Linked DNA regions of Homo sapiens: region 2 is linked to region 1. The links come from fine-mapping of genetic effects on gene expression. A gene starts in region 1. The other region holds a variant in brackets. All regions are shown on one strand. Distances are between the middles of the regions. Region 1 holds the start of CRISPLD2 (cysteine rich secretory protein LCCL domain containing 2). Region 2 overlaps CRISPLD2 (cysteine rich secretory protein LCCL domain containing 2).

Region 1 (8,000 bases):
GGCCAATTGGAAAATCCCTCTGGAAAACTCCGGGAAACAGCTCTGAATCATCCCAGCCAAGGACGAGAAATCTGGGGTATTTATATCCCCATCCCCATTTGCTGTTATTAGCCATTGTCCCAGGGGATATTAAATCCTAGGCACTCATGGGCCACCATGCTCATGTGCTGTGTGGGTTCTGATAGCTCAGGGACAGCCCTCCAGCAAAGACACAGGTGTGGCTGTTGGAAGTCAGGTTGGCCTTCACAGAGATGGCTGGGATCTGTGAGGACAGTCGGCTTCAGTCCTAGATGTAGATTATTTACCCAAAGCTGTTGTCCCACTAAATTTGGGGCTTTTTTCTGGATGTGTCTACAGACACTGCACAGACTCTGCTGTGATCAACCCCACCAGCCCACAGCACTATTTCATCATGCTTGTGCAGCCCGATAACTTCCCTTGGTGTCACTCAGTTGAGCTGCAGGTGGACGTCTGCTCCCAACAGACAATTCGATTCTCCCTCTAGGAAGTAGAAGTGGGAGATGGTGAGGCACAGCCTGAGCTGGGCTCTGGGACAGAGGAGAGGTGACCCCCCAAGCTGACGGGATGGCCATGTCCACAGGGAATAGGCGAGGCCTGGCTGCAGAGGGAGACGGGAATCATGTCCAGAGAAGGAGGAAATAGACGGAAAGCACTGCCAGAGGGCCTGGTGCCTTTCCAGGATTCACTCTAGTTGTCTGAGAGTCTTACTTGCCTTGGGTTCCCAAATAACTCAGTATCCTCCCAAGCAGTTCCCTTCTCTGCTTCAGCTAACTTGAGTGGATTTCTGTTACTTGCAACTCCAATTGATTAAGACCTCGCCCCCAGAGCTCCCCACTGTAGGGTCTCCACTGCCCCCAGAGAGTGGCCTGCCGGTGTAAGATGTACAAGGTGTCACCCTTGCCCCCTCCTCTCCAACAAGGCAGACAAGTGGGTCCCATGGAGAGCCTTGGAAGATCATGATTGGCACCTGTTAATACAGAGGTGGCACCATTTTTCCAAGTCTTCTGGAAAAGAGTTAGAAAAATGGCACCACATCACACATCACAAAATGGCACCCCTATGTCTCCTCGCCTCAAATTGTTAGTGGGTTTTTGTTTGTTTGTTTGTTTTGTTTTTCCTGTGAGACAGGGTCTGGCTTTGTTGCCCAGGCTGGAGTACAGAGTGCAGTGGTGCAATCACAGCTCACTGCAGCCTTGACCTCCTGAGCTCAAGCCGTCCTCCCACCTCAGCCTGCCGAGTAGCTGGGACGACAGGCACGCGCCACCATGCCTGGCTGATTTTTCTATTTTTTGTAGAGACGGGGTTTTGCCATGTTGCCCAGGCTTGTTAGTGGTCTTTGATGCCAAATTGAGGGCTGGTGACATTCTGCAGCTGCTGAATGGGTGTGGCAGGAACAAATGAAAAGCTGGGACTCCCCGGCCTTTGCTCTTGATGTCCAGTTCATAGAGCCTCCAATAAAAATAAATGATGAATAAGAAATTGGTGTGAGGACAGGAGCCCTACAGCAATCACATCGAGAGGAAAGAACGACCTTGATCTTTACATCACGTAATTAAACATTTATGACCGCCGGCCCCAGCCACCGTTCTGCAGACATGCATGCGGTCCTTCTGTCGGCCCATCTTGGTCCCAAGAGAGAGTGGGCAGAGGGCTGGGCTCTCCAGGGTGGCCCCACCAGGCTTTCCTGTTCGTTTTTCCAGGTTGGGCTTCATTGTGACCAGAAGGATGACTTTTTTCCTTTGTCTCAAACTGTCCATGACTTAACTCCCTGCCTGGGTAGCAAATAGGAGCCTTTCCTGGGATGTCCAAGGGTATCAGTGACCAGTCCCTTCCCAGGGGGCACTTGGGACGGGACTGGCCATCTTGCCCCTTTCCTTGGTACAAGTTGGTGCTCTCCCATCTGGGACTTCCCAGGGGTCCCCCTTGCCCATGAAACACCATTTTTTTTTTTTCAAATTCAAATGTTATTTTTTGGAAATTAGATTCTGAGATTGCAACATGATGGAAAAGTTGATCACCACTAAACTCCTCTCTCTCTCTTTGCTTTACTGGCTCTAATAATAACGGTATTAACTAACACTTTCTGTGTGTCAGGCCACGTATTACTTCCCATCTATTAACCATTTGTGCCCACAGAGAGAGACAGAGATGCCATTATTACCACATTCATTTCACAGATGGGGCATGGAACGCAGCGACATTAAGTGACTTGCTCAAGGCCAACAACTTGGAAGTGGAGGAGCTGGGATTTGAACTGAGCCTGATGCCGGATGATGACACAAACCAGCAAGCTAAGGATTCAGTCTGCCCCGTGGGTGAGACTGCCCGGACAGCAATCGTGGCTTGCAGAGCAGTGGTCTCTGGTTGCAGCTCTGCCAATGGGGTCCTTGGAGCGTCTGGGCTGGGCTGGGTCTCCCCAAAGCCAACTTGGGCCGGTGAGGAGCCTACAGGGTTGCCATACAAAGGATCTGTAAGGAGATGAGGGTTGGATTAGCAAAGTGGCAAACATTTCACTATTGACAACTGCCAACCCCCGTTCCACCTGCTGGGCCTATGTAGAGGCTGATTCCGTGTAGCTTTCCTTCCTCTTTGCTGGAGTGGGGATGGAGTAGGGACCCAGTTCATTCCATTCCCCTGCACCCAAGGTTTCATGGTCACAGGCAATGGCAGCCACGTGGGTGAGAGTGTGAATTCAAATCCTGGCTCTTCTATTCAGAGGCTGTGTGGCCTCAGGGAAGTGACTTACACTCTCTGTGCTCAGTTCCATCATTGAAAAAATGAGGCTAATAACAGGACCAGCCTGGAGGGTTGTTGGGGGTGGCAGGATTTGGCAGTATAATGCTTTGGGGTCAGGTACTCAGAGGCATCTGTTTTGTTGTTGTTTGTTTGTTTGGTTGGTTGGTTTTGTTTTGAAATAGGGTCTTGCTCTGTCACCCAGGCTGGGATGCAGTGGCTCGATTTCAGCTCACTGCAACCTCCACCTCCCAGGCTCAGGCAATCCTCCCACCTCAGCCTCCTGAGTGGCTGGAACCACAGGCATATGCCACCATGCTGGCTACTTTTTGTAGCAACTGGATTTCATCATGTTGCAGGCTGGTCCTGAACTCAAGCCACCTGCCTGGGCCTCCCAAAGTGCTGGGATTACAGGCCTGAGCCATCGTGCCAGGCCTCCAAAGGCATCTGCTAACACAGATCTCTTCTCCCCTTGGATTTGTCTTTTGTCAATCCAAGGACTGTTGTTCTGGAACAGTCTTATTCACTACTGAGCCCTCCAGTGCTTGAAACAGAGCCCAGCACATAGTAGGTGCTTAATTATTGGATGACTGCATGCCAGTTGAGTGCCTCTGAAGAATGATGCTTCAAAGACTGAGAAAAGTAAAACAAAAAGAGGAAAAAAAGATAACAGAAAACATCTGCATTATTATTATCTTTTTGAGATGGAGTTTTGTTCTTGTCTCCTAGGCTAGAGTGCAATGGCGCCATCTCAGCTCACTGCAACCTCTGCCTCTCAGGTTCGAGCGATTCTCCTGCCTCAGCCTCCCAAGTAGCTGGGACTACAGGCATGCACCACCATGCCCGGCTAATTTTTGTATTTTTAGTAGAGACAGTGTCACCATGTTGGCCGGGATGGTTTCGAACTCCTGATCTCAGGTGATCCGCCCGCCTCAAACTCCCACAGTGCTGGGATTACAGGTGTGAGCCACCGCGCCCGGCCAGTCTGCATTATTCTGTATCTGCATTTGAGCCGCACCAAAATCTTAGGCAAGCCTTCCCTGTTTGAGTCCACGTCACGCAGGCAGCCTTCCATAGTCCTTGTTCCACCCATTCCCCATCCTTGTTTCTCCCACGTGCCCTAGCTCGTGGGGGCCCCAGACTCTGAGATCCCGGAGGTGTCTTGTTTGTGCCTGCTGTATAGCACAGGGCCCGGCACAGAGCGACTCGATGGGTATTTGGGGAATGAGTTAATGCTGGAGGAGCTAATTCCGGTGTCTTGGTGCGGAGATGAGCAGTGCGGACAGGCCCCCTCCTGCCCTTGGGCCCCAGCACCTTACCGCGCAGTGCCTGCATACCCGTCCACATTTTGTGACTGAGGCGGGAGCACGGGGCAGTCCCTTAGCTCTTAAGGAACGTGGATTTACCTGTTTCAAAGGTGATTTCGTCTGGCTCTAAATTGATTTCCGTATGTACCTGCACAGGTTAAAAATGCTAAATGCCTCCGGGCAAAAGAGATATGAACATGCTGCACTGCTCCTAGCTACGGGACTTGGGGCACGCTCTTCTCCAAGCCTCAGCTACTGGATCTGTGAAATGAGGTGATTTCCACCTCCCTGGATTCCTGGGAACGCGTCCTAGGGTCGTTGAAGGTAAAGTGCGGAGCCTGGATCCCCGCGCTAGCGGCCCCATCCGGAAACAAGTCTCCCTTTCTTCGTCTGCAAATTGGGAAGAGGGGGCCTAAGTTTTCTGAGCACGTGTAGAGGGTGGGAGTCACCTCAGTAACTGTGTACTCTGCACCGCGCCACAGTTCACAGCGCCCAGCCCTTGCGGATTTCATTTGCTAAAATCCTGGGAGGTCGCCTCCTTATTCCTATTTTCCAGTTGAGCTGCAGAGAGCTGGGGTTTGGTAAATTTGCAAGCCCCTTGTGGGAAGCGCTTGGCACCGCGCCAGGCGCATAGTAAGCGCTCAATGAAAACTATGCTTGTGTGGCCAGTGGCGAGGGAGCTGAGCGTCTCCTTGTCCCTAGCCGGCCCTGGAGGCCAGCGGCCCCGCCTTCCTCGCCCACCCGGCGCCCGCGCCTCAGCTGCCCCCCGCCTCCTTCAGCCCGCTGAGCCTGCGGGGCGGGGCCGGGGGCGGGGCCGGTGATGCTCGGTCCTACCAGCGCCGCCAGCGATCTGGGGGCGTGGCCTCCGGGCTCCGGGGAGCCTACAAGAGGCGGTACGCTGAGCCCCGGCACCCACTCGCATCCCAGGGCGTCTCCGGCTGCTCCTATTGAGCTGTCTGCTCGCTGTGCCCGCTGTGCCTGCTGTGCCCGCGCTGTCGCCGCTGCTACCGCGTCTGCTGGACGCGGGAGACGCCAGCGAGCTGGTGATTGGAGCCCTGCGGAGGTAAGTGTGATTTCCATGCTTCTCCCTTTTGCAAACTGTTACCCCCCCGAGAAGCTGGAATAACTAGGACAGATGCCACCTCGCAGGGCTGACTGTGTGCTGGCACCACACCGAGTGCTCTGCTTGCATAGCGGAACACAGCTTTGCGACATGCCCTTTTGCAGATGGAGAAACTGAGGCTCAGCGAGGACAACTCATTTGTCCAGGACCTCGCAGCCAGGACTCCAAGGACCCAGGATTCAACGCCGATCTGAGCGCAGAATCCTGCTCCTTAGAGGCTGTTTACTCTCTTGCCTTCCTCGTGCAGTTCACTAGCATTTGTTGCATTCCTGTGTTCGTAGTGGGTGTCAATAACTGGAAAGCTGATGGCATGGATATGGCAGGCATTAGAATGTGTCCTACTCATGTCTGGAGGACCAGGGTGATCTAGTGGCATGTGCATTCAGCTGCAGTTTAGAGGGCCACGCCCCTCTGTGATTTCATTTGCAAGGTAGCCTTCTTCCCACATTTCAGATGAAGATGCTGAGGGTCAGAGAGGTGAAGTAAGTTGTCCGGGCAGAGCCAGGGCTGGAACCCAGCTCTGTCTGTCTCCAGAGCTTCAAATGGATGTGTAGAGACTTGGGGCCATGTCAGGGTTCTGCAGTCTGGGGGAACACGTTTCTGGGTTTCTTTAGCCAGAGCGGGCACCTGCATAACTCCTGCGTGGGGAGAGTTACCCTGGAAGCGGAGGGCTCACTCTGGAGTGTGGGGGAGATCGGTCGTCCCACGTGGACAGAGCCAGGGCTAGTCCCTCATGTGCTGCAGACCCAGAGCCTCCCTTGCTAAGGCTGGGCTGGTGGACAAGCCAGGGAGGACTTCGCTGATGCCTGCTCATCGCAGTCCAACTTGAATTGGGCGTCTCTCAGCCAAAATGTGAGTTGCTGCCCTGGCTGAGAGAAGCATCCCGTGCAAATGCCTAGCTTGCCTTGCAACCGAGAGTGGGGTTGTGAGTTTCCCCTTTGGGCCTTTGGACCTCTTGCCCTGGTAGAATGGGGTGAGCCTGCTTTCCCCATCCAGGGTCTGATGTCTGACAGTGAGGAGAGCCTGCAGAACAGGACCGGGGCGTGGTCCTTTCCAGTAGACTGAGGCCATGAGTTGTGACTGTCGGCTGTCCCAGGGCTCCTTGGGTTGTATGCACCTGATTTTCTGCTTCTGCCCCTGATCTGGCTGTTCCCACTCAGGAGAAGGGGTGGGTGTGTGACTGTGTTGCCTGTGCGGCAGGCACGCGGTCTGTGCCACGCAGTTTACCTGTATTGTCATCGCTGCAACACCCCGGGGAGTAGGCCTCTTGATGCCCACTTCACAGCTGAGGAAACTGAGGCTCAGCAAGGTGAAGTGCTTGCCTAAGATCCCCCAGCTGGTATGGAATGCTGTCACCCCCAGGTGGGTCCTATCTGCACTCTTGACCCTGCTTTCTTTAAGACACTTCCCTGCCCACTGCCAACTCCACCCATGAACCTGACCTTCACACAGGTGATGTTTTGTCTTACAGGGGCTCCAGTTAAAACCACTGGACAATGTACCCAGGGAGGAGAAACCAAGAGGGTGATTTTGATTTTTTCAGAGTTTCTTAAGATGTGAGAGTAGGAATAGTAATAATGCCATTTGTAATAATACAAGCAGCTGACATTTACATGATGCTTAGTACAGACCAGACATGCCCAGGGTTTCCACGGATGAGCTCACTGCCTGCTCTATTAGCTGGGCACTTTTTACAAGGAGTTAGTTGAGGCTCAGAATTATTAAGGTGTGTGCCCAACATGACACAGCCAGGGCGGGGTAGAGCTGCCGTCCAGGCTGGGCCCTGCCCCAGATTCTGGGGGAAGGTGCCCATCTAATGACCAGCCACATGACTGTCCCAGCAGAGCTTGCTGCTAGTTGAGGCTTTCTGTGCCATGTGGGAGTTTTTTTAACGTTGGCAGGGATCTGGGTCCCTGGTCCCTGTTGGGGTGAGGCTGGGAGGGGATCAACTGACCCTGGGCTTGGGCTCAACATTGCTGACAGGTACTGAGAGCCCCGTCCCAGGACCCAAATCAGTGCTGGTTCTGAGTCCTGCCTCTGTCCTGGAGAGGAGAGTTGGTTTGACTGGGAAGGCCTGAGCTAGGGAAGAAGACTGCGAGGTCTCTTAAAACCTCTGCACTTCATCCCTCAAAAGACCACAAATTAAGTATGTGGCCCTTTGTAAGTTGCATTTGAAAGTTTTTGGAGGCAGGACCCTCTGACGTCTTTGGAGGTCAGAAAGTTTTTGGAGGCAGGGCACTGACCTCTTTGGCCTGTGGGAACTGGAACTTTTCTTTCCTCTGTCACCAGCGTCATTTGCTGTGTGTGGGAGGTGTCTGCATGTCTGCCTGCGCCAGACTCAGGAGGCTTTTTCTTTCTTTTTCTTTTTTCTTCTTTTGCAAACGCACTGGTTTTTGATCAGTCCCAGATGTGCAAACCCAGGATCACTCAAACGGGCTGACGGCTTGTCAGGAAAGGAAAATTCAATCTGGGCATATTTCACTTCGTCTTCAGTTCATTGAGTGGAACAGATGCTCAGACCTTCCAGGGACAGGGACCTAAAGCACGTTGTAAAGTCTTAAATAGAGCACGCTGAGTTCTGGGACAGGCAAGGGACAGGTAGATCTGGGTGGTGGTTAATAGGATGGGCCATGTTCTGTTTTTCTTTTTCCTGAAAAGATGTATTGTGGTAAAAATACACATAAACATAAAATTTACCATTTAACCCATTTTGAAGTGTACAATTCAGTGGCGTTTAGTACATTGGAAGTATTGTGCAGCCACCACCACTAATTCCAGAGCGTTTCATCATCTCGTAAGGAAACCCCAGGCCCATT
Region 2 (8,000 bases), 88 kb after region 1:
GGGCCTAGCCCAGTCCAAAACAATGGCCTCCCGTCAATTTAATGCTCCCCTCCTCCCACCTTCCGGGTCTCCTCTCCAGCCTGGCCCCTTCCTGGACCTCCCCCAAGAACCCAGGTACCCCCAACATCGGCACTGTCACAGAACATTCCGGAAAGTATCCTTAGAAGCCTGTAATCCCAGCACTTTGGGAGGCCGAGGCAGGCGGATCATGAGCTCAGGCGTTTGAGACCAGCCCGGCCAAGAGACCAGCCTGGCCAATATGGTGACACCCCATCTCTACAAAAAATACAAAAATTAGCTGGGTGTGGTGGCGCATGCCTGTAATTCCAGCTAGTTGAGAGGCTGAGGCAGGAGAATCGCTTGAACCTGGGAGGCGGCGGTTGCAATGAGCCGAGATCACACCGTTGCACTCCAGCCTGGGCAACAGGGCGAGACTCTGTCTTAAAATTTAAAAAAAAAAAAAAAAGCCCAAAGAGACTTAGTGACTTTGTCACACAGTTACTAAACGTTAGTGTAGGGATGGAGACTCGCGTCTGGAAGACATGCTCCAGAGGTGAGATTTGCAGAATGCCAAAGCAGGATGCATGGGAAATCTTATTCCCAAAAGCAGTGTTCAAAAACAGCTGTTTCAGGACTCCAGAAATACACCACAGAGTCATACAACGAACAGGGAGGTGTTTGTTCAAAAAAGTGTGGACCTCAGATAAGAACAGAGGGATCTGTGGTGTCTGAGCCTGGGACCGCTCCTGTTCACCCCACCAGCTCCTGTGGCTGGAAGTTCTACTGGGGTGGGGCTGTGCCATCCAGCGGCTTTCTTGATTTGAAGCAGAGCGAGGAAAACCACACACCTCTGGCCATTGTCAGGAACAGTATCAAACCTGGTGGCCAAGACACAGGAAGGCCAGTTGGTCCAAAGGTGCAGTTATCATCTGGGGCAGAAAATCAGGGAGGATCTAGAGAATGAGACAGCCGTGGTGGCCCTTGGTAGGCTCCCAGGCGTCCCTGGTGTTCTAGAAGGCTGTGCCCACAGCAAGAGGAGCAAAGCGGGAGGGGGCACTTAGGCTTCCCAATTCTGAAACATCCTATACAGCGACAGTGATCAAGATGGTGGTGCTGACATCAGGACAGACACAGAGATTAAGAGAACGTGATTGGGCCTGGTACGGTGGCTTACGCCTGAAATCCCAGCACTTTGGGAGGCCAAGGAGGGGAGGATCACGAAGTCAGGAGTTCCAGAGCAGCCTGGCCAACATGGCAAAACCCCATCTCTGCTAAAAATACAAAAATTAGCCCCGCGTGGTGGTGTGCACCTGTAATCCCAGCTACTTGGGAGGCTGAGGCCAGAGAATCACTTGAACCTGGGAAGCAGAGGTTGCAGTGAGCCAAGATTGCACCACTGTACTCCAGCCTGGGCAACAGAGCGAGACTCGGTCTCAAAAAAAGGTAAAAAAAAAAATTTAAAAAAAAAATTAAAAAAAAAAATGATTGGAAGTCCATAAAATAAATCATCACACTTCCAGTCAATTGATTTTGACATCGGTGCCAGGACCATTCAGTGGGCAGAGAATAATTTCTCAACAAATGATGCAAGGGCAATTAGATATTTACAAGTAAAACTGTGATGTTGGACCTTTGCCTCACACTATATATAAAAATTAACTCAAAATGGATCCAAGGCTGAAATGTAAGAGCTAAAAATTACAGATGTCTGAGAAAACAAGTATAAATCCTTCATGACCTTGGATGGTTTGCTAGATATGACGCCAAAAGCACAATCTATAAATGAAAACAAATTGATAAATTGTATTCTATCAAAGTTTAAAACTTTTATGCCTTAAAAGACACCATTAGGCCAGGCACGGTGGCTCACACCCATAATCCCAGCACTTTGGGAGGCTGAGGCAGGAGGATCACTTGGGCCCAGGAGTTTGAGACCAGCCTGGGCAACATAGTGAGACTCCATCTGTACAAAAAATAAAATATATCAATCAGGCTTGGTGACATGCTGCTCAGGAGGCTGAGGAGGGAGGATCGCTTGCACTCAGGAGGTCAAGGCTGAAGTAAGCCACGATCATGCCACTGCACTCTGGCCTTGGTGACAGACCTTGTGTCTAAAACAATTTTTAAAAATTGTCTAACACTGGATTGTGGAGATGACTGCACAACTCTATAAAATCTCTAAAAACCATTGAATTGTACACTTAGAAAGGTTGAGTTTATACGGTATGTTAAACTTAATAAAGTTGGTTTGGTTTTTTTTTTGTTTTTTGAAACAGAGTCTCACTCTCTTGCCCAGGCTGGAGTGCAGTGGCAGAATCTTGGCTCACTGCACACTCCACCTCCCACGTTCAAGTGATTCTCCTGCCTCAACCTTCAACTAGCTGGGATTACAGGTGCACACCATCATGCCTGGCTAATTGTTTGTAGAGGCAGGGTTTCACCATGTTGGCCAGACTGGTCTCGAATTCCAGACCTCAAGTGATCCACCTGCCTTGGCCTCCCAAAGTGCTGGGATTCCAGGTGTGAGGTGTGAGCCACCGTGCCTGACCAATAAAGCTCTTTTTTTTTTTTTTTTTTGGAGACAAAGTCTTACTCTTGTCCCCCAGGCTGGAGTGCAATGCCTTGATCTTGGCTCACTGCATCCTCCGCCTCCCAGGTTCAAGTGATTCTTCTGCCTCAGCCTCCCGAGTAGCTGGGATTACAGGCGCCTGCCACCACATCCGGCTAATTTTTGTATTTTTCGTAGAGATGGGGTTTCACCATGTTGGCCAGGCTGGTCTCGAACTCCTGACCTCAGGTGGTCCACCCGCCTCACTCCCAAAGTGCTGAGGTTACAGGCATGAGCCACCGCGCCTGGCCTAAAGCTCTTTTTTAAAAACCATCTTTGATTAGCTGAAGGATTTAACTCCTCTTGTGAGAGGGCAGTTTTTACTAGCCATGGGACCCTGGGTAAATCTCTTTATTTCCTGGTGTCTCCGTTTCCTCCCCTGTGAACGAGCGATAACAGCTCCCTCAGGAGGAAGGTGGAAGGCGGTGAAGCACCTGGCATATGCAGTAGTGCTGAGATAGCACCTGTTCATCTCTCCCAAGACACCACTGTTCGGGTTGACAGGTGGTAGTGAAACCAAGCAGAATTCTCGGAGGGTGAGTCCAATCCAGACAGACTGGGTCCAGCAGATCCCTGAGTTAAAAGGAAATAACTTAACAGCCTTGACCTAGAATCAGATGGATGCTCATGTGCAGAGAAAATGGGATTTGCCACCTGTTCTCAACTCAAGGCAGGCTCTGTGTCTGGCGGCTTCAAGGAAGTGTCCCTTGGCCATGGCTCTTCCACTACGGGAGCAAGCAGGAGGCACCCAGGTCTCCCTGCCCACCCAGAGTCCCTGCAGGAGGCCCTCCAGATCTCTCAGTAACGGGCCCTCTTTCTTCTTTTTTTCAGCCTGGGGACTCCTCGGGATGGAAAGGCCTTCCGGATCTTTGCTGTCAGGCAGTGAATTTCCAGCACCAGGGGAGAAGGGGCGTCTTCAGGAGGGCTTCGGGGTTTTGCTTTTATTTTTATTTTGTCATTGCGGGGTATATGGAGAGTCAGGAAACTTCCTTTGACTGATGTTCAGTGTCCATCACTTTGTGGCCTGTGGGTGAGGTGACATCTCATCCCCTCACTGAAGCAACAGCATCCCAAGGTGCTCAGCCGGACTCCCTGGTGCCTGATCCTGCTGGGGCCTGGGGGTCTCCATCTGGACGTCCTCTCTCCTTTAGAGATCTGAGCTGTCTCTTAAAGGGGACAGTTGCCCAAAATGTTCCTTGCTATGTGTTCTTCTGTTGGTGGAGGAAGTTGATTTCAACCTCCCTGCCAAAAGAACAAACCATTTGAAGCTCACAATTGTGAAGCATTCACGGCGTCGGAAGAGGCCTTTTGAGCAAGCGCCAATGAGTTTCAGGAATGAAGTAGAAGGTAGTTATTTAAAAATAAAAAACACAGTCCGTCCCTACCAATAGAGGAAAATGGTTTTAATGTTTGCTGGTCAGACAGACAAATGGGCTAGAGTAAGAGGGCTGCGGGTATGAGAGACCCCGGCTCCGCCCTGGCACGTGTCCTTGCTGGCGGCCCGCCACAGGCCCCCTTCAATGGCCGCATTCAGGATGGCTCTATACACAGCAGTGCTGGTTTATGTAGAGTTCAGCAGTCACTTCAGAGATGTATCTTGTCTTTGTCAGGCCCTTCGTCTTCATGGCCCACCTGTTTTCTGCCGTGACCTTTGGTCCCATTGAGGACTAAGGATCGGGACCCTTTCTTTACCCCCTACCC[G/A]TTGTGGCTCCCACCCTGCCTCGGACTGGTTTACGTGTCCTGGTTCACACCCAGGACTTTTCTTTGCAAGCGAACCTGTTTGAAGCCCAAGTCTTAACTCCTGGTCTCGTAAGGTTCCACTGAGACGAGATGTCTGAGAACAACCAAAGAAGGCCTGCTCTTTGCTGCTTTTAAAAAATGACAATTAAATGTGCAGATTCCCCACGCACCCGATGACCTATTTTTTCAGCCGTGGGAGGAATGGAGTCTTTGGTACATTCCTCACCGAGGTTAGCAGCTCAGTTTGTGGTTATGAAACCGTCTGTGGCCTCATGACAGCGAGAGATGGGAATACACTAGAAGGATCTCTTTTCCTGTTTTCGTGAAACGACTCTTGCCAAACGTTCCCGAGGCGCCAAGGAGTGTAGTACACCCTGGCTGCCATCACTCTATAAAAGTGCTTCATGAGCCCAGACCAAAAGCCCACAGTGAAATGAAGTACCCTTTTGTAAATAGCATTTTTTTGCAGAAGGTGAAAATTCCACTCTCTACCACCGGGCCAGCCAATAGATCACTTTGGTGAATGCTAGTTTCAAATTTGATTCAAAATATTTCTTAGGTGAAAGAACTAGCAGAAAGTCAAAAACTAAGATACTGTAGACTGGACAAGAAATTCTACCTGGGCACCTAGGTGATGCCTTCTTTCTTTGATTGCCTTTCTAATAAATGCAGAATCTGAAGGTAAATAGGTTTAAAACAAAACAAAAACCCACCCCTTTAAGGAGTTGGTAAAAAGCAGTTCAACTCTTAGCTTGACTGAGCTAAAATTCACAGGACTACGTGCTTTGTGCATTGTAGTCTAGTCGTAATTCATAGGTACTGACTCCTCAGCCCCAAATGTCGGAGAGGAAGAATTCGGTCAGCCTGTCAGGTCGTGAGTCCAGTTACCACCAAACATCTGGGAAACTTCTGGGTGCTGGGTGCTCTGCTGCTGGACTTTTGTGGCTGTGTCTGTGTCTGCAAGATAAATTAGATCGCCCTGTGGGGTTTGCAGAATTAGTGAAGGGTCCAGGACGATCCCAGTGGGCTCGCTTCCAAAGCATCCCACTCAAGGGAGACTTGAAACTTCCAGTGTGAGTTGACCCCATCATTTAAAAATAAAGTCCCCGGGTTCCTTAATGCCTCCTTCACTGGGCCTTCCTAGCAGGATAGAAAGTCCTTGCCCAGAGCAGGACCTGGCTGTCTTTTTTTTTTTTTTTTTTTTTTTCCCGAGACCAAGTTTCACTCTGTTGCCCAAGGTAGAGTGCAGTGGCGTGATCTCTGCTCATTGCAACTGCCGCCTCCCGGGTTCAAGCAATTCTCATGCATCAGCCTCCCAAGTACCTGGGACTACAGGCGTGAGCTACCATGCCCGGCTAATTTTTGTATTTTTAGTAGAGATGGGGTTTCATTATGTTGGCCAGGCTGGTCTCGAACTCCTTACCTCAGGTGATCCACCCACCTTGGCCTCCCGAAGTGCTGGGATTACAGGCATGAGCCACTGCGCCCGGCCATGGACCTGGCTGTCTTTATCATCCCCACAAACATTTTGAAACTGGAATATTTGTCTTCAGAAAATGGAAACAAGACTATAAATGATAAGCCCTGTCCCTAGCACCACCTCTCCTGTGTGTGGAATAGAGGCCCCTCGTGCTACCAACACTTACCCTGTGTTTAAAAAGATCTTGTACCAAGCCAACGGCGTTCCTGGCTCTCCTGCCCACAGGATGAACATTTTCGGCTTCCTTAGGAGTTTTGCCCTACCGTATTCCAAAGCGTGTGCTGGTTTCTCATATTGTCTGTAGGCTCACTCAGCCCGCAGTTTATGTGTGTGCTTTTTTCTATGAAAAATGATGTATTTTGCTACTTCCTGTGTACAAAGTTTTATTGTAAATGTTTTTTGTGCTTTGCATGAACAGGGGCCACGTTGTTGCAATTGTTTCAGTAGAACTGGTTTGATTTCTAAAATGTTCCTGTAACATATCTTTTATGAACAAATCTGAACAATTTGTGAAATAAAACATTGAAAACCATCTTTCAGGCTCTGGACTGTTTTGTGTTGGCTGCTTCTGCTAGGATGTCTCATATACACAGAGATGCTGACAGCCAGGGCCTGGTGGAGACCTCCACCCCATCCGCGGGAAGGAGGGAGGAGCTTGCCAAAATGCAATTTCGGGCTCAGCAAGGCTGGGTTGGGGCCAGGGACTGTGAATTTCTCCCAAGATCCTGGTGATGCGAATGCTGCCAGTCCCCAGATCACACTCTGAGTGGTGGTGGGCTCAAGGCCATTCTGTCTAAGCTCCGGCTGCCCTAACAAAATACCATAGACTGGGTGACTTAACCCACAGAGATATCTTCCTCACAGTTCTGGAGGCTGGAAGTCTAAGATCAGGGTGCCAGCAGCGTTGGTTTCCTCTGCGGCCTCTCTTTGGTTTGCAGGTGGCTGCCCCTGGCCGTGTCCTCACATGGCCTTTCCTCTGGGCATGTACACTCCTGGTGTCTCTCTCTCTCTCTTATAAGGACACCGGTCATATTGGGTCTGGGCCCCACCCTTAGGACCCATTTAACCTGAATTACCTCCTTAAAGGCCCTACCTTGAAATACACAGGCTGGCTCATGCCTGTAATCCCAGCACTTTGGGAAGCTGAGGCAGGAGGATCACTTGAGTCCAAGAGTTCAAGAGCAGTCTGGGCAACATGGGGAAACCTTATCTCTACAAAAAAAATACAAAAATTTGCCGGGCATGGTGGCGCATGCATGTAGTCCCAGCTACTTGGGAGGCTGAGGCAGGAGAATTGCTTGACCCTGGGAGGCAGAGGTTGCAGAGAGCCAAGATGACACCACTGCACTCCAGCCTGAGTGACAGAGCGAGACACACACACACACACACACACACACACACACGAAAGAAATACATTGGGGGTTAGGGATCGTTTTGTGTGGTTACAATAAGGAAATGATCAAAGTACGATTTCACAAATCACACAGTTTATTGCTACACAAAGATGTTTTTTCCTTAGGTTCCCAGTGCTTAAACAGGGAGAGAATGAGACCAAACCTCACAGAGAATACACTCGACAGACGAAGCCCATTAACCCCACAGTGGGTCAGTTCCAGAATGATCAAGGCCTACTTGCTCACTTAGGATGGAAGCAGGCCTCAGTTTGAGGTGCACCTTCTACCAGCCGTTCTTGGAAGCGCTGTAAGGTCCCTAGAAGGCAGTTCCAGCGCTGGCCAGAGGCTTCTGAGAGTAGCTCCAAGGCTGGCGGGGTGACCTGTCACAGCTGGAGCTCCCAGCTTTGGGAGAAGATGCCGAGGGTGCAGCCGGCCACAGCCAGAGCTCCCAAAGGGTCCGTCCCACTGGCAGGTTTGCATGTGTATGGAAGTCCAGTCGTGAGGGTCAGGAGCTCGCAGACGGGGTCCGATAAGGGGTGAGGCCACATTCTCCAGGGAAGAAGGGGCACACCAAGTTCTTAGCGCAGCAAAACGCGTCACCCACGTAGCAACCTGTGGAGGTGTCTGGAATCATTTCAAAGCCCTGTGGGCCGGGCACAGTGGCTCGTGTCTGTAATCTCAGCACTTTGGGAGGCCGAGGTGGGTGAATTGCTTGAGGTCAGGCGTTCGAGACCAGCCTGGCCAATATGGTGAAACCCCATCTCTACTACAAATACAA

Evidence for each region.
Region 2: its variant is fine-mapped to the expression of CRISPLD2 in whole blood (INTERVAL, PIP 0.98).

The regions. Positions count from the first base shown.
Region 1 is chr16:84,815,010-84,823,009 of GRCh38, forward strand. CRISPLD2 (cysteine rich secretory protein LCCL domain containing 2) reads left to right here and starts at 4,976. Exons shown (of 15, transcript NM_031476.4): 1 at 4,976-5,124. RefSeq lists a silencer at 4,749-4,938.
Region 2 is chr16:84,903,149-84,911,148 of GRCh38, forward strand. CRISPLD2 (cysteine rich secretory protein LCCL domain containing 2) reads left to right here. Exons shown (of 15, transcript NM_031476.4): 15 at 3,440-6,360. The coding sequence ends at 3,494. Among named protein-coding and RNA genes, the nearest start is that of LINC02176, 21 kb to the right of the region's middle. RefSeq lists a silencer at 7,007-7,122. The variant G/A (reference allele first, on the strand shown) is at 4,310.